Homo sapiens: one gene and its partners. The protein of the gene in region 2 purifies or fractionates together with the protein of the main gene of each other region. This does not show direct contact. Each region holds a gene or a part of one and is shown on either strand. Other genes may lie near its edges.

Evidence for each region.
Region 1: the proteins of MYT1L (region 2) and MYCBP2 purify together in Homo sapiens (affinity purification with mass spectrometry, with the first as the bait; one large-scale study listed by BioGRID). This does not show direct contact.
Region 3: the proteins of MYT1L (region 2) and SAP130 purify together in Homo sapiens (affinity purification with mass spectrometry, with the first as the bait; one large-scale study listed by BioGRID). This does not show direct contact.
Region 4: the proteins of MYT1L (region 2) and SPRYD3 purify together in Homo sapiens (affinity purification with mass spectrometry, with the first as the bait; one large-scale study listed by BioGRID). This does not show direct contact.
Region 5: the proteins of MYT1L (region 2) and ACAD11 purify together in Homo sapiens (affinity purification with mass spectrometry, with the first as the bait; one large-scale study listed by BioGRID). This does not show direct contact.
Region 6: the proteins of MYT1L (region 2) and CUX1 purify together in Homo sapiens (affinity purification with mass spectrometry, with the first as the bait; one large-scale study listed by BioGRID). This does not show direct contact.
Region 7: the proteins of MYT1L (region 2) and SUDS3 purify together in Homo sapiens (affinity purification with mass spectrometry, with the first as the bait; one large-scale study listed by BioGRID). This does not show direct contact.

The regions. Positions count from the first base shown.
Region 1 is NC_000013.11:77,096,595-77,100,094, forward strand, and holds part of MYCBP2 (E3 ubiquitin-protein ligase MYCBP2), read right to left. Parts: intron 2,420-3,500; coding exon 776-2,419; intron 1-775. UniProt on the Homo sapiens protein: Atypical E3 ubiquitin-protein ligase which specifically mediates ubiquitination of threonine and serine residues on target proteins, instead of ubiquitinating lysine residues.
Region 2 is NC_000002.12:2,328,476-2,332,566, forward strand, and holds the start of MYT1L (myelin transcription factor 1-like protein), read right to left. Parts: upstream 2,801-4,091; 5' UTR 2,492-2,800; intron 1-2,491. UniProt on the Homo sapiens protein: Transcription factor that plays a key role in neuronal differentiation by specifically repressing expression of non-neuronal genes during neuron differentiation.
Region 3 is NC_000002.12:127,944,560-127,948,059, reverse strand, and holds part of SAP130 (histone deacetylase complex subunit SAP130), read left to right. Parts: intron 1-2,500; coding exon 2,501-2,604; intron 2,605-3,500. UniProt on the Homo sapiens protein: Acts as a transcriptional repressor. May function in the assembly and/or enzymatic activity of the mSin3A corepressor complex or in mediating interactions between the complex and other regulatory complexes.
Region 4 is NC_000012.12:53,069,391-53,072,890, reverse strand, and holds part of SPRYD3 (SPRY domain-containing protein 3), read left to right. Parts: intron 1-3,500.
Region 5 is NC_000003.12:132,576,310-132,579,809, reverse strand, and holds part of ACAD11 (acyl-CoA dehydrogenase family member 11), read left to right. Parts: intron 1-251; coding exon 252-318; exon of another isoform or gene 319-928; coding exon 929-1,014; intron 1,015-2,794; coding exon 2,795-2,866; intron 2,867-3,500. UniProt on the Homo sapiens protein: Acyl-CoA dehydrogenase, that exhibits maximal activity towards saturated C22-CoA.
Region 6 is NC_000007.14:102,198,626-102,202,125, reverse strand, and holds part of CUX1 (Homeobox protein cut-like 1), read right to left. Parts: intron 3,325-3,500; coding exon 3,259-3,324; intron 2,056-3,258; coding exon 1,954-2,055; intron 767-1,953; coding exon 1-766. UniProt on the Homo sapiens protein: May be involved in intra-Golgi retrograde transport.
Region 7 is NC_000012.12:118,379,555-118,383,054, reverse strand, and holds part of SUDS3 (sin3 histone deacetylase corepressor complex component SDS3), read right to left. Parts: intron 2,894-3,500; coding exon 2,824-2,893; intron 2,086-2,823; exon of another isoform or gene 1,367-2,085; coding exon of another isoform or gene 1,221-1,366; intron 1,196-1,220; exon of another isoform or gene 1-1,195.

The DNA of each region.
Region 1 (3,500 bases), on a different chromosome or scaffold from region 2:
AAGTAGATATCTTATTTTTCAGGCTATTAACTATATCAGAAAAATAGCTTACTTGATCAAAAAGCAATCAATTAAATGATGCCCCAAATATGAGAGATACTTAGTTTCTAATCAGGCATATTAAAAGAGAGATAGAATATAGGTATATTTAGATATACTTAATTATGTCAATAAAATTAGACAATACAAGTATAAAAGTTCTATAACAATGATATATTTTCAGAAATCACATATTCATAAGACATTTGAGGTATAATATGTAGACAAAGAAAAAAATTAACCAAATTTGTATTAGGTGAATTTGGAATATTAGTCAATGTTACAGAAATCATTACATTTACTGAAAATGCAGTCTTCTGATAAAACAATATCACTTCCGTAGGAAAAAGCCTATAGAAATCAATCTAATCTAATTTAATTTGCAATTCTGAACAGGAAAATAGTAAAATCAAAGGAGATGCCCTGTGTGTATGGGCATGCCACTGTTTCTGCTGTGTGAGACAGACACATTAATGGCACACCCTTTGGGTAACACATAATATTTTTTAAAACATGCTACATGAAAGTGAAATAGCACTAAATGACCTGGCCATCATAATATTAGAATTTATCTGTTTTTCACAAAACCCTGTACTGATAATGTACTTTAAAAATGACATTCTAAGATACTATAAATTCCCTATCCTTTGACAAAATTCATAGAACAGCTCAAATAAAGTGATCTGGTTCATTAAAGAAAAAAGCACTTATACGTACATTCAACAGTATCATTTACCTGGGTGAGCTTGTCTCATGTGATAGGTCACCGGGTATGGATGTGACTCCCCACACAGTTCACAGATGGTATCTTTCTCTGGTCCTCCTACTGCCAGCTGGGCCATCTCTCCAAACAAATTACCCCTGGGCCTAACTTCTGCCTTTTCTTTTTTCTTTTTTTCCTTTTTGGACTTCTTATTCTCTTTCTCACACTCTTTCTTTTTAAGAACTGCACAGGAACCAGGACTTGGAAAAATCATATTCTGGGAAGCAGCTTTGATAGTAGCCAAAGAGATGTCTTCCCAAAAAGCCACTAAATGTTGTAAAGTTAAGGGAAGAGGAGACTTAGACTTCATTGTGTTATGCATGGACATTTCAAAAGTGGTCTCGGTTTTCCCATCCTCACATTTTTCATGCAGAGGTGGTTCCTTAAGCATAGACAATACCTTGTTTTTGTTGATGCTACCCATCTTAGATATATCTGGTCCATGGGGTGCAATATTAAACATATTCAGTGCAGATGATATTTCTAATGAATGTCTATTTTTTAACTTGGTTTCTTTTTCCTCTGTAGGTTGTTGGCTATTTAAACTACTCCTTATAGGAGCATGTTCTTTGGAAAGTTCAGGATGAAACTTTAGGAAAGAAGAACAAGCCATTGCATCATGTACTATGCCTTCATGCCAGAGGAAGGAAGCAAACACAGCTCTGGCACATTCGGCCACAGAAGGAGACATGGCTTGCTTGGCTGGCTCTAAAGGCTTGGATCCATCTCCTTTGAAAAGAAAACTCGATTTTTCTTTTTTGGGCCTGGTGTGTCTATTAGCACATTTTCGACTTATTTTGGGAGATGCTCTCATTTCCTGTTCATCTTTCAGTGGTGCTTTTCCAATGCTAAAATGAACTTTATTTGAACCTTCATCCACACTCTTAAATTCACTGCTGTCATCGCAGGTGCTGTCTGTTAGACTATTTGTTTTTAAAGTACTTGAGGTGCAGACTTCGACCACCTCACTGTGGAGGTTTTCCTGTACCACATGGGGAGAGGGAGCTCTATTTTCAGATCCAGGGGAATCTGTAGAATCCTTTGGTACTGATTTTGGTTTTGGTGACGTTGACCGTCCTCTCAAAGGTTCTGTGAGGGGCATTTTCTTCTTGCGGAGGGTATCTGGATCAAGTGTGTAAGAGTCTGATTTAGAACGTTCCCGAGGAGGATCAAGCTTTGTCTTAACAGGAGCAGTACTTTTTTGAGGTAGATTTTTATCATGTGGTGAGGAGGAGCGTGGAGAACTAGCACCCGATGGGCTAGACCTATTGGCTGGGAGAGTCTTTGGCTTAGGAGATGACAACCGAGAACCTGGTCCTGGGGATTCAGCTCTGGAGCTAGAAGGCATCCTCCCATCAGATTTCAATGTCTGCAAGGTGTTATGGTTGGGGGATAATGACCTACTGTGGGAATCTGACCTCAACTTTGCAGCATCAGATTTTAAGATGAGGGATTCACTAGCAGATAAACTTTCTGTGCCCCTTGGCTTCTTCTGATCAGCAGTAGTCCGGCTCATACGTCCATCAGGTTTAAGCGATCTGCTGTGTTTAGAGGACAGCTCTGATTTTCCTGATGTAGAGGCTGGTTTAGAAGATGTTGAGATGTTTCCTCGATCACCTGTATGGTCCATTTTACAGTGAAACTTATTAATAAAATTATAACTTACTGATAATTTAGCCACTAAACACTGAAATAAAAAAACATAGCTACAAAATTTATATTGTTTGTCATACATACTAAAATACTTGAAGAATAAAGGAAAGAAGGGGGAAATATTTCTAATAAAATTTCTACACATCATTACACAACATTACCACCAAAAACTATTTTCATGGACGCAAAACAACAGGTTGAACAAATCCAGTGTGAACTATCAGTGATATCTCAACCTCTGCCCTAGTGCAATAACTAGTTAGAATTTAAATTCAGTGAGGGACTAGAAAGAGACAGAAATTAATCTTTTGGGGAATAAGAAATTATTTAATGTGAAAACTTGTATTTTAAATGTAGAGTAGAGCTAAATTTCCAGCAGAGTGATACCTCGCATCCTTAGGGCAACGGTATGGGTTTTGTTGAATTAGAGAACTGAATTTATGCATAGACACAATTATAATTTTTAAGTGTATGCATACAATTAGGCTAACAAAGAGTTGCTTAAGAGGCACTCTGTTTTATGATCAGATTAGACTAGTTTACAATGAGCACATGAATGCCCTGAAGCTGTTATTTAATTATTTATAAACAGGTTACACTCCAAAAGTTCAGGAAGCTTAGCTGCTTAGAACTCAGAGCCTGTGTTCCCTTGGAAACCACAGAAACGGTGGATCCTCAGAATGAGTGGTAAAAGTCTGAACTGTGGACCCTCAAAACAAGGAGTCAGGAGAATGACAGAAAAACAGGATGAAAAGAAGAATCACCTCCCTTTTCTAAGGCAAAGCATTAGATGTTTCTGCATGGACATTAATTGTTTTTAGCACCCTGCCTTCATTCAGTGTCTCTCCTTCATTCTATTTTATGCTTTTCTTTGAGGCATTAGAGCCAGGCTGTCTGTGACCCAAGTAAATGGTACAAACTTCAACATCACCTTTCCTCCTTAAAATAAAAACTTCTACTCTTAGTGCAAGTGATACCAGTTAGTTGTTAGGAGAAAAGCAATCTGACTGAAGGGTTTCAAGTGGTATAAAAAACTGAAAATCCA
Region 2 (4,091 bases):
TAATAATTTTTGTACACCACTCATATGTGGTCACAAATCATTGGGCCTTTACCTTGATCTCAGCTTCTAACACAAATTTGTGAAATTGGCATAAGTTCTGCTGTTGGATGCAAGTTTAACTCAAGAGAAGTTGAAATTTGTGTGTCATGCATACTTTCTACCTTACTGTGACACCAGATAGTCCTGGTGCATCTTTTCAAAGATGAATTTTATTAATAATTACATGTATTTGGATAAAATTTTCCAGTTGAAAAGTAATAATGTTTACAATTTTCCAACCCACAACTATACATATATACAAGTAATTTTTAACATATTGATATGTTTGAATATTTGGAAATAGAGTAAAATATGTGTATAATGGCAGATGGAAAGTCTTTACTAAATAAAAATGTTCAAGTATAGATATCTTTGCTGCCACCATCTTCAAAACATCCAAATGTGACCATGAAGGCTTCTCCTACTTCTACCTCAACTAGCACAATCATTAAGGTGATGAAAGTGAGCCATTTTCACATTGCCAATAAACTAGGAGGAAGTCAGTCACTGTTGAATGCAATCGCTATCAGCTGCGGACAGCTCCTGGTGCTGAAAGGGAAGGCAGAGAAGCCTGCTCACAATAGCTCACTCCACCAGCCTTTGAAAAATCACAGCAAAACTGAATGAGGTGGCAAGTGCTCAGCCTGAATAGCACTGTCTACAGAACAATGGCAGCCAACTCTAAATCCTACTATAATCACATTAATGAGATTAATCAGTGAATTAGCAGCAGTCAAATGTCAGGGAGGCAAGGAAGAATCCAACCAAGATTGGTAATTAACTTTTTGTGGGTGGGGGTGGGGAGGAGAGAAAAATCAACTGTGCTATCTCATAGGTTTTTTTAGATGTTGATAATTTTGATTCACGAATCTGAAGACTATATGTACAGATCAAAAGACAACAACATAATCCTTCATATTATAATATAGATCCAGATCTCATATTACTGATTCTTATAGTCCTCTGAGAAAGCTGATGTCACTTTAAATAATCTTCATAATCTATCAGAATTTTATTGTTTTAAATTCTTTAAATGCACAATTAATATTTAAAATAAACTTATTTCTCTGAAAATCAAGCTAAAATATAAAGAAATATGGCTGATTAAAAGCAGAAGGATTATATAACAACTGTTATTGTTTATGAAAAGTGTATGATAGTATGGTAAGAGTTTTCAAAGTGCAATCAAGTAAAGTACCATCACACACACACATCAGTAGTGGTCTATGTTAGTTAATAAAGAAAATTTATCACTCAAGTATAACTTTAAGGAGACTTTTAAGCAATTAACTTACTGCATTTGAGGTGATAGAATCATACATGTTCTTTTAGGTCAATCAGAAAAAACAAACTTCCTTTTTTTCTGGAATGTTTCTCTTAGTAGCATTTATAACTTACAATCAACACTTTGGATTCAAAGTTCTTGAGAGGTGAAAACTTATAGGAATGCAATGCTGTTTTTTTTTTTGAAAAGGAATATTTTATAAAACTCTTTTCTTTTAAAAATAATTACATTTTTATCTGTATGGGAGACATGACTTTATTATTTTTAAAGCTACATGACACTAAATGAAGATGAACAATTAGAAAGACCCTCATATGCCAGTAAGGGTGGTTTTGGGATGCTTTGGTCTATGACGTTAATTTTGTTTAGTAGAAAATATAAACATTTGAACAAAAAGGCTCTTATATAAAATAGTTTTACTCTAAGTAACTTAGAAATTATTTAGCTTATATAGCTTTGATGGTACAAGAAATTGTCATGGTTAATACTAAATTCAAAATCTGTTCTCTATATTTTATATAGCTAACTTTCATATAAATATTTACATATATATTTTTGCTTTATTCAGATCTATCTTAAAACTAAAGTGTAGAGTTTAATCTTTTAGTTTATTAATTTAGGTGTTACAAAAAGACATATTTCTGTTATAAATAACATTTTCTTTCATTATTATGAACTTCAAACATTTAAGTTAAATTTAAAAATCTTTATTTGAGTTTCTCCACTTAAACAATATAAATCAACTTTCTTCTTACCATCAGGTAAATTCATCCAAAATAGCTAACATTTTAATTGCCTTTGCATAAAATGATGTGCTTCATTTGTAATGTAAAGTAATCCAGTAAAGTCTCTGGGAAGTTTTTGTTTCAGTATCCTCTTATCCTCCAAACACCATACATGCACCCCGTTTTGTTTTTGTTTCTTTTTTTCTTAATAAACAACATCACAGTTAAGTCATGCAACCTAATACCCATTTTAGTTTAAAGACAGATTTTTTTGTGGATTACAAAGCCTCCAGTCCAGGAACATTTCAGCTACCAGCCATGCTGTAAAAATAACTTTAAAAAGGAGCAGACAATGGAATAGCAGCCTCAGCCCTTGAGCTACGGTAAAACACATCCTGCTCACTAAGTTCCCCGAAAAATTAACCTAACGAACATCACGTACCTCACAATGACCACAACCGCTCACAAGCGAAAGACAAGTTCAATTTTGGTAACTGTGCTGGCTCAAAATACACAGACAGGGAAGAAAACCCTGTTCCACCACAAGTTTGAAAGGATGATGAGACACATGCATGCCACCAAGACGCAGAAAAGGTGGCTTTTTGTCTTCAGTGAGTATGGATATCATAACCCATAGTCCAGGGAATGAAAAAATTAAAATGCACCCACCAACAATGAGCAAAAAACCCGGGGTGCTTCAACAAGACTGCAGGGAAAAGCTCTCTCACTGTTTAGTGTGCAGTAGCTTAGGGAAAAAAAAAATGTCGCCCGGGCAGGAATGACAAATGCAGCGCGATAGGCTCGCAGGCCTCAGGGATCTGTTTGACTTCCACACACCCCCATGCACACGCTCCCACTCATCCTCTCCTAGGCTTTTTTTTTTTTCCACATTTTTTTTTCACAAGCTCCAAATCCCCGGCATATGACCTTCTGTTAAATAGATAAAAAAAAAAATTGCTTATCAGTCATGCAAATGAGGCTGAATTCATTTTCCACAACAGATGGCCTCATAGATAATGATGATGGAAGAGAGAAAATTGAATGTCTCTCACAAGGTGGCCATGGCAACCGAGAGCAGAATAATATCAATAATAAACTCACTGCATAATAAGGTTGTCAGTCCTACAAATCAAAGTCTCCAGCTAAATCAGGTATACCACCCCAGCTAGTTACCAGGTAAATAGTACACACACACACACACACACACACACACACACACACTTCCACAGAGTGGCTTGAAATCTTTCATGGTCACTGTAAAATGTGTACGTGTGTGTGTCTGTTGGTGGCAAGAAGGGGTTGGGGGAGAGAATAGTTGGATAATGAAATGACAATGTGACTTTTTTCTTTTCCTTTCCTTTCATTATGTTTTCTGCAATAGACTCGGTTTCATGCAGGACCTTCTAACTAGCCATATTGAAATCGGGATGCGGTGCTGAAGGCTTTCTCTCCTCCCTCTGCCTCCGCGCTCTCGCTCTGATGTGCTGCATTGATGCAATAGCAGCTCGCCTCAGGCTTCCACCTTGGCTCCCAGGGGGACATCCTGCAAAATGAATCAGCAGCCATCCTGAGCAGGCTGATTAAAATGAAAATGGCAAGGCACATGTCTGGGCGGAACTGGAGCTCAGCTTTGCTGCTTGTCTGGCAAGCATGCTCAATATAGCTCTTGCTAATAATGGCTTACTGCCTTTCATTTTTTAAAAAGGTATCACCCTTTTCCCCCTTCACTGACTGGTGTTGTCTGTGTGTGTGTGTGTGGTGTGTGTGTGTGTGTGCACGTATGTGTGCGTGCATGTCGCGGGGGGAAACGAGAATGGATGGTTCTATTCTTCTAATTTTCTGCTGCTCACATGCAGACTGCCTGCCTGACAGCACCATTATTTTAACACTGAACTTACTTCAGCTTTTCTTTTGGGACAGGGTGGGGGGGCGGTTGATAAGTCTTGGGGCAGAAGGGCTAGTTTTAAAATCAAGCTGCCTAAAAGGCCCAGACAAGATTTTTACACTCCAGATTCAATAATTTCTAACCAAATCTGAAGCAA
Region 3 (3,500 bases), about 130 Mb from region 2:
CCAGCACTTTGGGAGGCCAAGATGGCTGGATCACCTGAGGTCAGGAGTTCAAGACCAGCTTGGCCAACATGGTGAAACCTCGTCCCTACTGAAAATATAAAAATTAGCCAGGCATGGTGGTACACACCTGTAATTTCAACTATTCAGGAGGCTGAGGCAGGAGAATTGCATGAATCCCCGGGAAGTGGAGGTTTGCAGTAAGCCGAGATCATGCTACTGCTCTTCAGCCTAGGTGACAGAGTGAGACTCCGTCTCAAAACACACACACACACACACACACACACACACACACACAGACACACACAATACAAAATTAATTCACACAATATGAAATTAATTTACAGAAAAGCAGGAGTGGCTATATTAATGTCACATAGAGTAAAATTCTGAGGAAAGAAAATTGCTAGAGACACAGAGGGATATTACATACTGATAAGATAATCGGCTGACCAGGTAATGATCCATTTCTCTGCAGTGTCTTTTAAAATATAGGCAAGGACATTCCAAATTTATTTTATGAAGCCAATATTTTCATGCTATCAACACCAGACAGAGTGTACAAATATAGAAAATGACAGATCAATATTCCTCATGAATATAGATGTAAAAATGCATTAATAAAATATTAGCAAATCAGATCCAGCAGTATATACCTTGACCAAGTAGAATTTTTTCTTGCTGTGCAAAGCTGGTTCAACATTTGAAAACCAAAGTAATCCACCATATTAACTGGCCTTATTAATTTCCTAGGGTTGCCATAACAAAGTACTGTGAACTGGGTGGCATAAAACAGTACAAATTATTCTCATGGTTCTGGGGGCTAGAAGTCCAGAATAAAGGTCTGATAGGATCATGTTCTCTGTGAAAGCAGTAGAGGAGAATCCTTCCTTGTCTCTTTGGTTTCTTGTGATTGCCAGCGATCTTTGGTGTTCCTGGCTTGCACCTGCACCACTCCAGTCCCTGCCTCCATCTTCAAATGGCATTCTTCTCTGTGTCTCTCTGCCTCTCCCATCCTCCTTTCTCTCTCTCTCTCCTTCTCTCCCCTTCCTTTTCTCTCTCTCTCTCTACTTCTCTGTCTCCCTCCCTCCTTGTATGGACACCAGTCATTGGATTTACAGCTCACCTTAATCTAGTATGACTTCTTAACCAAATTACCTTTTTTGTTTGTTTTTTCTTGTGACGGAGTCTCGCTCTGTCCCCCAGGCTGCAGTACAATGGTGCGATCTTAGCTCACTGCAACCTCCGCCTCCTGGGTTCAAGCAATTCTCCTGCCTCAGCCTCCTGAGTAGCTGGGATTATAGGCGCCCACCACCACACCCCGCTAATTTTTTGTATTTTTAGTAGAGACAGGGTTTCACCATGTTGGCCAGGCTGGTCTCGAACTCCTGACCTCAAGTGATCCACCTGCCTCGGCCTCCCAAAGTGCTGGGATTACAGGTGTGAGCCACTGCGGTCAGACTACATTACATTCTAATATAGTTATAGTCACAGGTACCAAGGATCTTCAACATGTCTTTGGGGGGAAAACCATTCAACCCACAACAAAAGCTAAAGAAGAAAAATCACATGATTGTATCAATCAATATAGAAAATTTGACAAAATTAAACACCTTTTCATGATAAACAGTGTTCAAAAACAGAAAAAGAAGGGTTCTTCCTTGATTTGATAAAGTTGTTCTGCCCTTGGAAAGGCTCCCCCAGCTGTCTTATGCTTTGTTCTTTCCTTCAAACCAGCCTGCACATAGTCTAGGCTATATCTTCATTAGTTCACAAATCTCCCCCAATTCCCTTTGCCACAGCCTCCACTGTTATGGGGAGCACCTTTAGGTTTGAACTTCTTCACACTCTTGCAAATGGACTCACTTCCTTCAGGAAGAAATTAGAAGGTATCTGTTTTACAGCCCACTTCTTCCGGCAAAATGTTTGAACCAGGGCCTTAGAGATGGGGGAGGCCCTGGCTTGACACGTGGCAAGCTTCTCTCTGAGTGACAGCCCTGCTTTAGGAGGTAGCACTTAGTGGAGGTAAAGGAGGGGAGTAAGCAGCCTGGTGTCCTCTTGGCTTGCCTCTCCTAGATGAAACCATTACCTCAAATAAAAAAGTTCTTATGGCCAGGTACGGCAGCTCATGCCTATAATCCCAACACTTTGGGAGGCCATGGCAGGCAAATTGCTTGAGCCCAGGAGTTCAAGACCAACCTGGGCAACATAGCAAGACCTCATCTCTACAAAAAATACAAAAGTGAGCCCAGCATGATGGCGCACACCTGTAGTCCCAGCTACTTGGGAGGCCGAAGTGGGAGAATCATTTGAGCCTAGGAGGCAGGGGTTGCAGTGACCTGAGATTGTACCACTGCACTTCAGCCTGGGTGACAGAGCCAGACACTGTCTCAAAAAAAAAATAAAATTCTTGTTAAAATAATGGCATTTACACTGCTCGAACACAAATCATTTACCTTTTTAAACACTGAAATACATGTATTTTTATTTTTTATGGTTCCAGAGGAGAAGAAAGCTATGCTGCAGGAAATAGCTAATCAGAAAGGAGTATCCTGTCGTGCTCAAGGCTGGAAAGTCCACCTCTGTGCTGCCCAGTTACTACAGCTGGTAGGTGGAGTTCTAGCAGTTGTTCATCATGCTGAAGAGAGGAGAAGACACTGCAGATAGCTGAGTTCATAGAACTTTTTAAAAGTAACTCTGAAGCATTCCCAGCTAACATGGGTTATGATAGAATTTTTATGTGTGCTATGTAATATCACACTGTGTCAGTTACATGTGATTAAAATTGAAATATATCTAAGTTCTGGTATCCAGATCCAAAATATATGGAACAACTGTGGTGTAAGACCTAAATTTAAGATTCAGTGTTATGTGATATTGTGACATCTGAAATAGGGGGAGCCTCAAACGGCCTAACCGAGAGTCCCTCCTCCCAACTCTGCTCCCTCAGATGAAGTCTCCTAGGCAAACAACCCTTCATACCACAGGGACCAGGCACACAATTCCTGCTCCTTGCTGAGTAGTAGGCTCCAGTTCCCTGCCAGCTTCCAGTATTCCAATTTCCAATGTTACTCAGATAAGCCAGTCACACACATCATCATTCAGAGACCGGGGCATACCTCTCCCTCTCTCCTGTTCTTTTTTTTTTTTTTTTTTTTTTTGAGACAAGGTCTTGCTCTGTTACCCAGGTTGGAGTGCAGTGGCACGACCATGGCTTACTACAGCCATGATCAACCTGCTGGGCTTAAGTTAATCCTCTCACCTCAGCACCCCCAAACAGCTGGGACTGCAGGTGTGAGCCACTGCACACAGCTGATTTTTTAAAATTTTTTGTAGAGGCCAGGCACGGTGGCTCACATCTGTAATCCCAGCACTTTGGGAGGCCGAGGTGGACAGATCACGAGGTCAGGAGTTCGAGACCATGGCCAACATGGTGAAACCCCTGTCTCTACTAAAAATACAAAAATAAGCTGGGCGTGGTGGCAGGCGCCTGTAATGCCAGC
Region 4 (3,500 bases), on a different chromosome or scaffold from region 2:
TGGTCAGAAGTCCACACATGTGGTGGAAGGTTCTTAGCCATCTTTTTTGAGGAAGTGTCAATGTCAGTTTCTATTGTCTTATCCCTGCATTTGATAGAGGATTAGAATGGAGGCAGATAAAGATTCAGTGAGCATCCTTACACCTCCAAACTTGCTTCATTTATCTTTTCCTCATACCTGCTTTAGTATGGATTTTAAGCTTCGTTGGGAAGCGTGTGGAGCTTGAGAAAGGGGAATTCTTCCTCCCCGGATTTTAAGTTTTGTTGGAAAATTCATGAACCTTGAGAAAGGAAAATTCTTCCTGTCTGCCTCAATACACTGTGCTGCATTGGGAGTGAATGGACGCCAAGTCCGGGATCTGGCCCTGACCTCTAGTGGGCTGCTCAGCCCTCCCACTTCGAATTGTCCCTCTCCTACCCCCTTGCTCCTGGCCTGGCCTTTTTCTCCACCCTCTGGCCTTTCCACCCCAACCCAGGCTGTTTTCAACTCAGTCTTTGATAACAAAACAGAAGCAGTGGGGGGTGGGAGCGGATTAGGAGCCAGGCCTCCCCCTGGTGGAGTGGAACTCAGGGAAAATGACAGGAAGTGTGCCCTCCTGCTGCTTCTGACACTCTGCACCCCCGTCTGGCATCAGGGTCCCAGGCTGCAGCGACCGAGAGCTAAGAGGCCTCAGATGCCCACTCCGTGACTCTCATGTCTTTCCTTTTTCCCCTCAATCTACCATCATTCTGACAACATCTACAGAGTTAAACTTGGGGCTGCGCCAGGGCGATGTTCCAGCTCTCATCTCTGACCTCTCCTCAAGAGTTTTTTCCTGGCATCCTTTCTCTGCCTGGACCTGTCCCCACTCTGCTCTCAGCTCCTCCCAGGCAATCTTTTCTAATTGATGCAGAATCCTGTAGACATTTATAAATAGCCTTCCTTCCTCCCCACCCTCCCCCCAACACCTTCAGCCACTTATTTAAGAGTGTTTTTCTTTTTTAGACATAAGCTGTTGAATTGGGCCCTTCTCTCAGACCCTCACCCCAGCTTGGGCCAGGTGGCAGGGTGGGAGCACTACTCCTGGGGCACCCGTTCCTCTGGGGCCAACTTGGATGTGAGCTTCCTGAGGGACATGTGCCTTTTTCCAGTCATGCCAACTTTCCTTTTTTTTTTTTTTTTTTTTTTAAGACAGGCTATCACTCTGTCACCCAGACTGGAGTGCTGGTTCACTTCAGCCTCCAACTCCCAGGCTCAAGGGATCCTCCCACCTTGGCCTCCCAAATTGCTGGGATTAGAGGCATGAGCCACTGCCCTGGGCCTCAACAGTTGTTAGATTTGAGTCTTTGGATATAGACAGACCTGGCTCTTTCTTGAGTGGAATTCTTCCCCTGCCTCCTGTGGCCTGTTTCCCCCTCCTAAAGAGTCTACCTCCTCAGAGCTCTGAGGGGTTGAGGAATTGCTGGGGCACTTGCCTCTCACCTCATCCCTGCCTCCAGGCCTCGCAAAGTGAGGTAATGTGGTGGAGGGGAGCTGGGGGCGGTAGGTAACAGCTGGGGGATTAGACTCATTCTGTGTTTGTGCCCTGTTCACAGCTCCTCTGACAACTCCTTAGTGACAGGGGCAACAGCTTTGGTACACACAGGGTGGTGAATGAGGCCCCGCCCTCCCAGGGGTCCTCCCCAGACCCAGCCCAGAGGGAGGCTGTGCTGGAGCCTGAGCTGGCCAGGAGAGTGTGTACTTGGTTCCTGTTTCAGTTGCTTCTGGGCCCTCAGGGCACTGAGCCCTTCCTTGCTCCTGTCAAGAGGGATTAGGGTCTCTGCTGGCAAGGGGAGGAGGGCGGATACCGGCAGGGGAGAAGAGGCTGGGAAGGTGCTACTGGTAGAGGGAGGGTGTGGAGTGCACGAGACTGTCCACACTCTGGTCTGCAGCCGCCACTCTGTGGCACTGAGTCATGTCTTTGGCTTCTTGGGGCTTTGGTGGTATGTGTGTATTAGGGGGAGACCCAAAGAAAGGGCTCCATCTTCCCCCACCAAAAATGCAGAGAAACATTTCTGTTGATTGGACATTGTTTGAGAGGAGACACATAGGGTAGAGTTGTCTGGGGAGTGGCCATCGTCCTGGTTGGCCTAAGGGACCATTGTAGTTGGAAGTAAGGGCTAAGATGAAAGATCATTTCCTTCTTTGTGATCGGCAATTCCAACGTAACCCCATTTACACTGATTTAGGGAGAGGCAGCAATGTGTATTGGTCACTTCATTAAGTCTTCCCACTTGTTTTTGGAAATTCAGGTAATCTTATCCCAGTTTACTGTTGAAGAAACCAAGGCTTAAGGAGGTGAATGTCATTTGCCTGAGGTTAGCGGCTGTTAAGTAATAGGAGTTAGGATTTGAACCCAGGTCTGTTGGATTCTGAGGTACAGGTTGAGGGACCAGCATCAAGATCCTAACAGTTCAGACTCTAAGGGTTAACCTTCACTCCTCCTCTAGGTTCCTAACAGCTATAGACCAAGGAGGCAGAGGAATGTACTCAAGAAAGAATCTGTCAGGGAGGCCAAATATTCCCCCCACTTCCACCCCTCTGAGTTCTCTGGGAAGGCTCAGGAGGGGTCGGGGGAGCTTTGTCCAGGAGCAGGAGAGTGGATCAGGAGGTTTATGATGGCTTTCACTGTGAGGGCTGGGCGGTCCCCTCTGAAGAGGGCACGCTGTACAAGCCTCACCTATACACTGTACAAGTACCTAGTCGTCCAGGACATCAGCATTCTGTCCGAAGTGCTCTGTGGTTGGCAGGTAGAGAGTGGGTTTTAAAGACCCATGTTGGGGTAGTCCGTCCTGGCTTTTAGCGTGAGAAAGCACCTCCACCCTATCCAGAGACAGAAATGCAGCAGCTACCCTCTTCTGAGCTGAGGCAAAGGGAGGGGCTGGCCGGGTATTTCCCAAGGATCAGGGTCTGGATCGGCTGTCTTTTGGCTCTGGAAATGGAGAACACTGTGTTTCCTACACCGAGGCCAGTTGGATAGAATGGGTCAAAGGCAGCTGTGGGGTCCCCCACCCAGTTCTGCAATGCTGGGTGGAGAGGGTGGGCTGGGGGCTGCTCTGCCTGGGTGGAGTCTAAACTAGTTAATGTGGATCAAGCCACACCCCTCCTGGCTTCCCGGGGAGAGAGGCAGAGGAGGAACCCAGGCTGAGCAGAGAATACACCATGAACAGAAGTCAAACAGTGTGGCCTTGGGGATGGGCTTAGGTGGTCTCCCGTGCATGCTGCTTTCCCCCTCATCCATCCCCAGTTATCTTTGGAGAGGAGGGAAGGATGGACTTGAGGTGGCGGGGCTGAGATCCAGGGCTGAGAAAGGCACCAAGCCCCTCTAGTCCTACTCTCAGAAGGGGTTAGTAGCACCCCGCTCTAAGCACCTGAGCTAAGCAGCGGCCGTCTGAGGCTGGGAGTGGGGATGCGGGAGCAGCCTCTGCTGGAGACACGCACAGGCTTCTGTGCTGGTGCAGGTGGGCATAATTCCTTTCCTG
Region 5 (3,500 bases), on a different chromosome or scaffold from region 2:
TTCATGCTGCTTTGACTTCTGGTTATTTTTGTGTAGCAGCTTTCATTGATGGGGTCCATTCTTGGCCTTGCCTAATCATTTTTCTTGGATGATATAGAGTGTTACAAAAGAATTATTATCTTAATGAATCAGGAATGTTCTCTCTATTTGTTTTCTGACATAGGTAAAGTGGGAAGGATTAGAACCTTCAAGGTGAAATGTCAAACTAGAAATTTCCTTTTATAATCTGCTTGTGTTCCCCTTGGTTTTAGGAGCTGGGAATCCCAAGTGCAAAATTGCAATTGTTTTGGGAAGAACTCAAAATACTTCTCTCTCCAGGTAATTAAACAATTCTGATTGAGAAACCTGTGTAGGAATGAGCCAGTCTTCCTCCTATCTAGGTAATTTACTTAAAATTCACTGTTTGGACTCACAAATCATAATGTAAGATATGAGAGTAAATGTCATATATTTGTATTTCACAAGTATTTTCTAACAGGTGTTTTTGGAAAACATTATAGGGAGTATTGCTGAACATTCTTCGCTGTGGAATTTTCAGTATTAGAAAGTGTTGCTAAATTATCAAAGCTGTTTGGATTAAATTATCAGACAAATTTTTTCAGACCTGTGTAATGAAGTGATTAGATGTTTAGATCAAAGGCAATAATCTTGAAATGTTTAATTATATATATAAGTTCCCAGTTACCATTGTTGAGCAGTGAGAAGCTTCAATCAAACAACTCATTTATTTTCAAATCATTGTTTCTGTTCCAGATCACAGCCTGCATCAGACTATGTTGGTGTACGTCTTTTACACAGTTCCCATTCCAGTCATCACTGCTTACATGACTACATGAAAACATCAAAAAGACAATTGTGATTCTGCTTATTATCTGTTTTATTTTTCTTCTTAGCAAACTTTTTCTAATACAATTTTTCTTTTGACTAGACACAAACAGCACAGCATGATTCTTGTTCCCATGAACACACCTGGAGTAAAAATAATAAGGCCTTTGTCAGTTTTTGGCTACACAGGTAGGTATCCAATAAATATGACCATGCATTAGCAAGCAGGAAGGCTAGAATATGCAGTAACATTGAAGGCAATAGCATTTTAATGCATAAGATAGATTCTTAGATATTCCTTTGTCTGTGACAACTGTCTTAATATAAATGCTGGTGGAGTTCAGAGTAGAGCCAATAAAAAGAAATAGTATAGCATTTATGTAATTTATAATTATATAAATTATAGAATTTATAGAATATAAATTCTGCCTTTTTGGGAAAGGGCAGATTGTATTTAAGGAAGAGCAACACTACCAGTCTTTTCTCTGTCATTCATAAAAATGGATTAATGCACAGATAATCCACAATAAAATTATTTTTATCTCCAATTTTAGCCCTCTTAATCAATCAACTTACAAGAACTGTTAAAAAGCAATGAGTTTTTGACTTATTTGAGTGCAAAATTTTCCTTCCTCTGCCCTTGGGTGGGACTTCTAAGAAGCAAAGATCCATTTGTTTCCTGCCACCTACTGTGGCACGTGTTCATTGTGTACAATAAATATTTGCTAAGATCACCCTCTCAGCAAGTATTTGCTTAGCCACCATGCCCAGCTAATTTTTGTATTTTTAGTAGAGACGGGCTTTCACCATGTTGGCCAGGCTGGTCTCGAACTCCTGACCTCAGGTAATCCACCCTCCTCGGCCTCCCAAAGTGCTGGGATTATAGGTATGAGCCACCGGGCCCAGCCCCTGGCTTTCTTTTTATCATTGAATATGACTAATGAATATGTTCAAGTGGCAGATATAAGACTTGCAGTTTTATAGAATCACTTATCAGTTAAGATGCAGCTGTAGAGTATACCCACAGGGTAAGCATAGGTGGCAAGATGGGATGAGCAAGCTTGCTGGAGAAAATTGCATGTAGGAAATTGTTGGGTTGCAGCGAAACGGCCGCAAAGATACCAAAAATGCGTTTATAATATAGTTGAGCTGCAAATAATTTCCATTGCAGAGGCTACATTTGATTATTCAGTATGAAAACTTTACTAGCACCTCTCCAACTCCCTGTGTCCAGGGCCAAAAGAAACAGTGTGGAGAAGGCTGATTATTGTCTCCTCTGACAGGAAAAGGGTGTAGAGTTAGCATGAGATTATCTCTAAAACTTGGCAGGGAGAAGGGGTGATGCAAAGATAAAATGTGAACGTGTTCCTGGCCTCAGTGTTTCAAATGCCAGTATTTTCAAGAGACGAACACACAGTGGAACAAGTCTAGACTGGGAGTAAACCTACCTGAAGGTCTAGTTTCTGTATCATCACTAATGCCAAGCCTGCTCTTTCCCCTCAAGCAGGCCCCTGTCATCTTTAGGCGTTGGTTTCCACAATGATAAAATAAGAAACATGGATTACATTACTCATTTTTAATTTTTGAAACATTGAAACTTTTTTCCATGCAAATTGTTTGGAACCCCATATGTAAAATATTTCAAAGAAGCAGCAATAATAAAACAAATAAAATACTCTGGCTGGATCTATGGAGCCTGGTCTTCCTTTTTCCTAGCTCTCTGAAATTGTACTTCAGAGAATGAATTAGAAAACATCTGGATCAAAGGGTTTCTCTTCTTGAACAGTTGATGAGTTTTCTGGGCTGCTGGGTCCTGGGGTTCAGGGCTGAGGCTTACCTCAGAATGTTCATGCCATATGGATCTTTGAAATCCTATTTTCTTCAAGTAATTATATTTCAGCAGATTAAGAATATGTGACTCTTTTTTAGTCAACTCCTTTTGCTCTAAATTTTATTTTCTATTTTATAGATAATTTTCATGGAGGACATTTTGAGATCCATTTTAATCAAGTGCGAGTTCCTGCCACAAATCTAATACTAGGTGAGTTGAATTTGGAAATGATTCTTCAGTATTGTACATTAATATTTCAGCTCTAAATCTGGAAAAGATAAGTCTTTCCAGATTTAGACCTGAAGTCTACCTTGATTTAGATATTAGGTTCGTGCAAAAGTTATTGCGGTTTTTGAACTGCAATTACTTTTGCACCAAGGTAATTGCAGTTTTTGGCAAAAGCCGCAATTACTTTTGCACCAACCTAATACTTTCCCTTCTTGTTTACTCCATTTGTCAAGGGAAAGTTTTCTGTTTGGCGGATTTTCTTACATGGAATGGTGAGGTTTTATTTAAGTGTTGGATGTGGTTTTCTATATCACATCAATTGAAAAGATAATATGAAAATTATATAATTCAGAGCAATACACTTTCTCCTAGAACATGATCTGTAGGCCTCTATTTGTTTTAAGAAAACCTCAGTACTTTATGAATTCAAGTATTAGATATAAGTTAGAAGCATAAATAACTTTGAACACTGTATGCCATCCTCTTGCTTATTAGAATACTATATCCCTTTCAAAGAACATCTAGAATACCACCTCTTCCAGGAATGTTTTTGTGTTCATCCCATCCATTCACCAGGCCCCTGATACCTGCCAGGCCCTGAGGTTATAATGATGAA
Region 6 (3,500 bases), on a different chromosome or scaffold from region 2:
ACCTCCTGGTACATGTAGACCTCGTACTGCTCGGGGGTCAGCGGGGGGACCGAGGGCTTGGTGGGCTTGGACATGGGCACGATCGGGGAGGATGGCAGGGGGCTGTTCTGTGGTGTCTCGCTGCGGCTGGCCCCGGTCAGACTCAGCTCTGAGCTCTGGGAGTATGGGGACTCAGCGCTGGGCCACTCCTTCCAGTACTCTGACGACGAGGGTCCCTGGAGCTGACTGCGCTCGGCCCGAGGCTGGCTGCCACCTCCGCTGCCACCGCTGCCCTTCTCTTTCCCGCCGCCCGTTTCTTCGGCCTTGGCCTCCTCGGAGGAGGCGGCATTTCTTCTCTCCGGCTGCACCGCGCTCCACCAGTGGTCCTTCCAGGCACCGCTGCGGCCCACCTCATTTTTCACCTGTCTCAGGACCCCTTGTGCACAATCGGCTGCTCCCTGGGGGTCCAGCCCGGGGGCGTCCTGGGCCTCCTTTTTGAGGGCCGGGGGGTTCGGCAGAGCAGAGGCACCGGCCTCAGGAGCTGCGGAGGGCTTCTTCAGGGAGATGGCGAGAGGTGGGTAGCTGGACACGGTGGGCATGGGCGAGGTGGACAGAAGCTTGGGGGTGAGGATGGTGATGTCACTCTGGGACAGTGGTGCCTGCTTTAAGGCAGGGTCGAGGGCAGCCTGCTGGGCCTCCATCTCCCGGCGGGCTTGCTGCAGGATGGAGCGGATGGCGTCATCAGAGTTCCCGCTGCCGGATGCGGAGGAAGGCTGGGCCGGCTCTGCTGCATGGAGAAACAGGGGTGAGAGTGTGGCAGGGCGGCCCCCTTCAGCTGGGGACATGCTTCTCATCCTAACTTGACCTACTGCAAAGTGTGGGTTATTTGGGAGAACCACACTGTGTATTTCCCCAGCATGGCCCCTGTCAGTGAAACATTCAGGCATCTTGTCTCAACCAAGGACCAGGGCCTGACACTACAGCTTGATGACCTGGTGGCCTTTGGTATACACACAGATGTAGAGGGTAATAAAGGGGGTGTCAGTGAAAGTGCTCCCCGACCTGCCCTCCTGGGGCTCCTTTCCCCGAGAATTTTTTTTTTTTTTTTTTTTTTTTTTTTTAGCGACAGGATCTCGCTGTTGTCCAGGCTGGAGCGCAGTGGCACGATCACGGCTCACTGTACCCACCCTCCACCTCCCTGGCTCAAGCAATCCTCCCAGCTCAGCCTCCCAAGTAGCTGGGACCACAGGTGCATGCCACCATGCCTGGCTAGTGTTTTAAGAGACAAGGTCTCTCACTGTGTTGCATAGGCTGGTCTTAAACTCCTGAACTCAAGTCATCCTCCCCCATCAGCTTCCCAAAATGCCAGGATTGCAGGTGTGAGCCACCGCGCCTGACCTCTGATAATTTTTATACTTGGTATTCATTTTCCTGTGCTATATTCTGAAATGCAAGTGGTTCTGTCAAAGTTAAGGAGCGTAATTTCTGTGAATAATTACAACTAGGGGCCAGGCGCGGTGGCTCACACCTGTAATCCCAGCACCGTGGGAGGCCGAGGTGGGAGGATCACTGGAGGTCAGGAGTTCGAGACCAGCCTGGCCGACATGGTAAAACCCCGTCTCTACTAAAAACACAAATATCATGGGCATGGTGGCACATGTCTATAGTCCCAGCTACTCGGGAGACTGAGGCAGGAGAATCGCTTAAACCCGGGAGGCAGAGGTTGCAGTGAGCTGAGATCGTGCCACTGCACTCCAGCACAGGCAACAGAGAGAGACTGCATCTCAAAAAAAAAGGTAACTATTAGGCAAATACAGATCACACAGACCTGCTTCTCTCTACGTGCCTAAATGCTTGAGAACAGGCATTCATTATTGTTTAAAAAAAAAATAGTTAATTACTGCTGACCAGAGCACTCATGACAATTCTCTTAATTAAGTTTGAAGACAGTGGATGAAGAAATGGAAGCTGTACCAGTTTTCTGCACTTGGAGCTCCCTCTTGGCTTGCTCTAGGATGGACTTGATGGCTTCATCAGAGCCAGTCTCCGAGGCTCGGATCCGGGTGGTGATGTTACCTGTGGGGAGAAGTTGCGCCAATGACATCAAACCCAAACCCCGGACAAAAATCAGCGCTGCGCGAAGACGTCATTCTGATATATAGCCCCGGGTGGGGGCTGGTGACACAAGGAGGCAGATGTGGCCTCCCAGTGGCCTGTGTTTGCTGTGAGTGCAACTTCACAGCGACACCGGGCAGGAGGGATTTCCTGCTCATTTGACCTTACGGTCAATGTTACTCTGCCAAAGCCGGACACCACCCGTGGGTTAGTACCCGGGAGAACCGATCATTTAATCCATATATATAAAAGGCGAGTGATTAAAAGGCAATGTTTCTCATGAGTCACTTAGAAGCAACTGCTGTGGCTTGGGACTGACTCTCCTCGGGGTTAGATGTTTATTGGATGCTGGGGTCCCACACAGGATAAACGGAAAAGGAGGGCAGAGGGTTTGAGGCTGATTGTCTATCAATCATTCAGAGGCACAGGGTGAAGAAAGGCTTAACTTAAAAAATTGTTTGCACCTATTATCACATAATATCTTTTTAAAATTTACATACGAGGAAAGGAGCCTGCAGAAATTCCTAAGTGGGGAGGATGGATTCTTTCGGCCACATGGTGATGTTTTGTGCAGGCACACGTGCCGACGAAATGAGGCTACTATGGCCCAGGGGCTGGCCCCAGCTCTTTCGGGAAGCCACCCGGATAGTTTAATTTCTTACTACCTTCCTAAATAGGAACCACTGCATTCAAAACAAGTATACCACCATTTAAAAACAAGTATGCCACCGGGACGATGTGGGATGCGTCCGTTCCATAGGACCTTGAGTGTGTTTCCGAGTTAAAAATACGAGGAAGCAGCAGTATTTAATTTGACGGGTCACCTGACTTTTCTCAGAGCAACCGCTGTTATTTTTTCAACTGCGTCTGAGAAAAACGGGGGACCGGGTAATTAGGATCTGAAGTGGGCTGGGATTCAGACTCGGGGGGCTTAGCTTAGCAATGCCTCTTCTCACCCCCGCCTGTGCTTGGGAGAGGGCAGGCAGCTCGGGAGGAAGGGGCTGGGTGTGCTTGAACCCGTGCCTTGTTTTATACTTACTAGCTGTTTTTCCATCAGGTTCCAGGCCAGAATCACACTGCACAGTTTTAACCCAAATACACAGCTAAGGACATGCTGCTTCCCTAGGTGACTGACTGCAAAGAAAACGCCTGCCTGCAACATACCTTCAGACCCATTTCTTCGTTTCGGTACTTCCTGAAATAGTCTGTTCAGGCTCTGGCCTGGATTCTCTGTTGAAAAACAAGTGTGGTAAGAACAAAACAATCAGGGGAATGGTGGTGTTGACGATATGGGCTGTGTGACATGAAATCTGAGCCGCCTGTCACTAAAGAAAGGGCTCAGGGCTGCCTGTGCAACTCGGGAGTTTCTAGAATCTTCTGAGAGGCCCTTCCCTGGCTGACCGGCC
Region 7 (3,500 bases), on a different chromosome or scaffold from region 2:
TTCTGATGCACTTTAGATTTCCCCTTGAATTACACAAGGCATTCCATTTTAACCGAAATTTTTTCTGTATCATCAAATACTAAGGGAGGCCAGGCAAGGTGGCTCACGCCTGTAATCCCAGCACTTTAGGAGGCCGAGGCGGGTGGATCACTTGAGGTCAGGAGTTCGAGACCAACCTGGCCAACATGGTGAAACCCTGTCTCTACTTAAAAAAAAAAAATTAGCCAGACGTGGTGGTGGGCGCCTGTAATCCCAGCTACTCGTGAGGCTGAGGCAGAAGAATAGCTTGAACCCAGGGGCTGGAGGTTGCAGTGAGCCGAGATCATGCCACTGCACTCCAGCCTGGGCGACAGAGCAAGACCCTGTCTCTTAAAAAAAAAAAAAAAAAGGCTGGGCACATTGGCTTATTCTTGTAATCCTAGCACTCCAGGAGGCCGAAACAGGAGGAATGCTTGAGCTCAGGCATTCAAGACCAGCCTGGGCAACACAGTGAGACCTAGTTTCTACTAAAAATTTTAAAAATCAGCTGGGCGTGGTGGCACGTGCCTGTTGTCCCAGCTACTTGGAAGGCTGAGGTGGGAGGATCAATGGATTGAGCCCCAGAGGTTGAGACTGCAGTGAGCTGCTATCATGCCACTGCACTCCAGCCCAGGCAACAAAACAAGATACTGTCTCAAAAAAAAGTGGCTACTGTCTCAAAAAAAAGTGGCCTGGCACGATGGCTCAGGCCTGTAATCTCAACACGATGGGAGGCTGAAGCAAGCAGATCATCTGAGGTCAGGAGTTCAAGACCAGCCTGGCCAACATGGTGAAACCCCGTCTCTACTAAAAATACAACAACAAAAAAATCAGCCAGGCGTAGTGGCGCATGCCTGTAGTCCCAGCTACTCAGGAGGCTTAGCCATGACAATCACTCGAACTCAGGAGGTGGAGGTTGCAGTGAGACGAGATCATGCCATTGCACTCCAGCCTGGGTGACAGAGTGAGACTCTGTTTCAAAAAAAAAAAAAGTAATCCATCTTTATTCAGCACTGGTTAGACCTAGCTGAATTACCCCTTTGAGTTCCAAAGCACAAAAACAATGTGAGAATCCAGAGGATGGCCACAAAACATTTGCAAAAAGGACCTAAAGGGAAATGAATGTGGATCATCCTGTTAAAAGGTAAAGAACTTTAAAAACCTAACACATTCAACAAATATACATTAAATATACTTTATACCGTTTTCCATCTGGGTGTACGCTAAAAGTGAGTGAGGTTTTCGTTTCTCTGAATCTGTTCGGCTGTGGCTCTGTCTGAAGACAATGAGAAGGTTTGGGTGAGAGCAGGTGCAAACGTGGACAGAGCACTGGCCTGAGAGTCAGCATGTGGCCAGGCAGGGTCGCTCACGCCTGTAATCCCAGCACTTTGGGAGACCAAAGCAGGTGGATCACCTGAGGTCAAGAGTTTTGACACCAGCCTGGCCAACATGGAGAAACCCCGTCTCTATTAAAAATACGAAAATTATTAGCCGGGCATGGTGGCATGTGCCTGTAGTCCTTGCTACTCGGGAGGCTGAGGCAGGAGAATTGCTTGAGCCCAGGAGGCAGAGGTTGCAGTGAGCCGAGATCAGGCCACTGCACTCCAGCCTGGGCAACAAAGCGACACTCCATCTCCACACAAAAAAAATAAATAAATACAAAAATTAGCCGGGCATGGTGGTGCATGTCTATAATCCCAGCTACTTGGGAGGCTGAGGCAGGAGAATCACTTGAACCTGGGAGGTGGAGGTTGTGGTGAGCCAAGATTGCACCACTGCACTCCAGCCTGGGCAACCGAGCAAGACTCCATCTCAAAAAAAAAAATTAAACAAATAAAAATAAATAAATAAATAAATAAGAGTCAGCAGCCTGCTTTTCAATCGTGGCTTCTCTGAGCTCTCCAGGCCTCCGGCACCTTGTCTAGCACATTAGTGCAGTGAGTTTACACTCACCTGAGAACCCAATTGCTTCAAGACAACAATTACCCTCTCTGTGCATTGGTTTGCCCATTAAAAAAGAAAAGAAAAAAAAAGGTCCGGGCGCAGTGGCTCGCGCCTGTAATCCCAGCACTTTGGAAGGCCAAGGTGGGCGGATCACGAGCTCAGGAGTTCGAGACCAGCCTGGCCAACATGGTGAAACCCTGTCTCTACTAAAAATACAAAAATTAGCTGAGCGTGGTGGCGTGCACCTGTAATCCCAGCTACTCAGGAGGCTGAGGCAGGAGAATCATTTGAATCCGGAAGGCGGTGGTTGCAGTGAGGAGATCCTGCCACTGCACTCCAGTCTGGACGAAAGAGCAAGGCTCTGTCTCAAGGAAAAAAAAGAGTAAGTAGTAAAAGGTCCTCTCCTGTTGTACGGCCTCATTCCCTCCCCTGGGTCCATTGCCCTCAAGATTCTTTCTAGAGAGTACTCAACAAAGTCTTATAACGGGAAGACTGATTAAATGTAATTAATTTAAAGTGGAGAAATTGTAAACATACATGGTCTTTGGAAGCGCTATGGTCAAACTCATACACACAAGGTTACTACAGATTAAGTATCCCTTATCTGAAATGCTTGGGATCAGAAGTGTTTTGGATTTTTTCAAATTTTAGATTATTTGCAATATACTTACCAGCTGAGCATCCCACATCCAAAAATCTGAAATCTGAAATAGTGCAATGAGCATTTCCTTTGAGCATCATGCTGGCACTCAGGAAGTTTTAGATTTTGGAGCATCTGAGATTTCAGATTTGGGATGCTCAATCTATATAAAGATGTTGTCAATTCTATGTTCCAAAAAGACATAGGCATATCATACTCACTGTTCCTTCATTTCTACATAGTCTTCTTCATCATGCTTTGCCAGGTCAGTTTCACTAGCATCCTCAGTGTCTGAATAAAGTTAGGAAATAGGGGCTAGTTAAAATCATAATTCACGGAGTTGGCGTCACCTGACACAGAGTATGCACTCAATAAACTCCCGTAAAATCAATTTCTATTCAAGGCAGGCTTGCACAAAGCCATCAATGAAAAACATTACATACAGTTAGTAGGCCATCCCTATCTGCAAACACGAAACCTGTGGACACAAAAGGCCAATGCAAAGAATTTGAGTATCCTCAGGTTGTAGTATCCATGAAGTCCTGGAACCAGTCCCCCATAGATACCGAGGGACAGCCGTACTTCAGAAAAGAAAAGGCCATTTCCAACTTACAGTCAGATTTATGCAAAAAGCTTGCCTTTACCTGAAATGCAGCCACAGAATAGGGTGTCTCAGGCACAGGCAGTTATGGTGAAGGCTGCTACTTCTGCAGAAACAACAATGCTGGCAACTCAAGAAAGGAGATGCAGGCGTAAGACTGGACACTGCAGGCAGTCAAGCCTTACTCGCTGCTCCAGAAAAAAACTAGTATGTACATTCTCTTCTGATACATACCCAGTTGGAACCCTTCGCACATTTTACATCAGGATACACGGTTGTCCCTCAGTATCCGTGGGG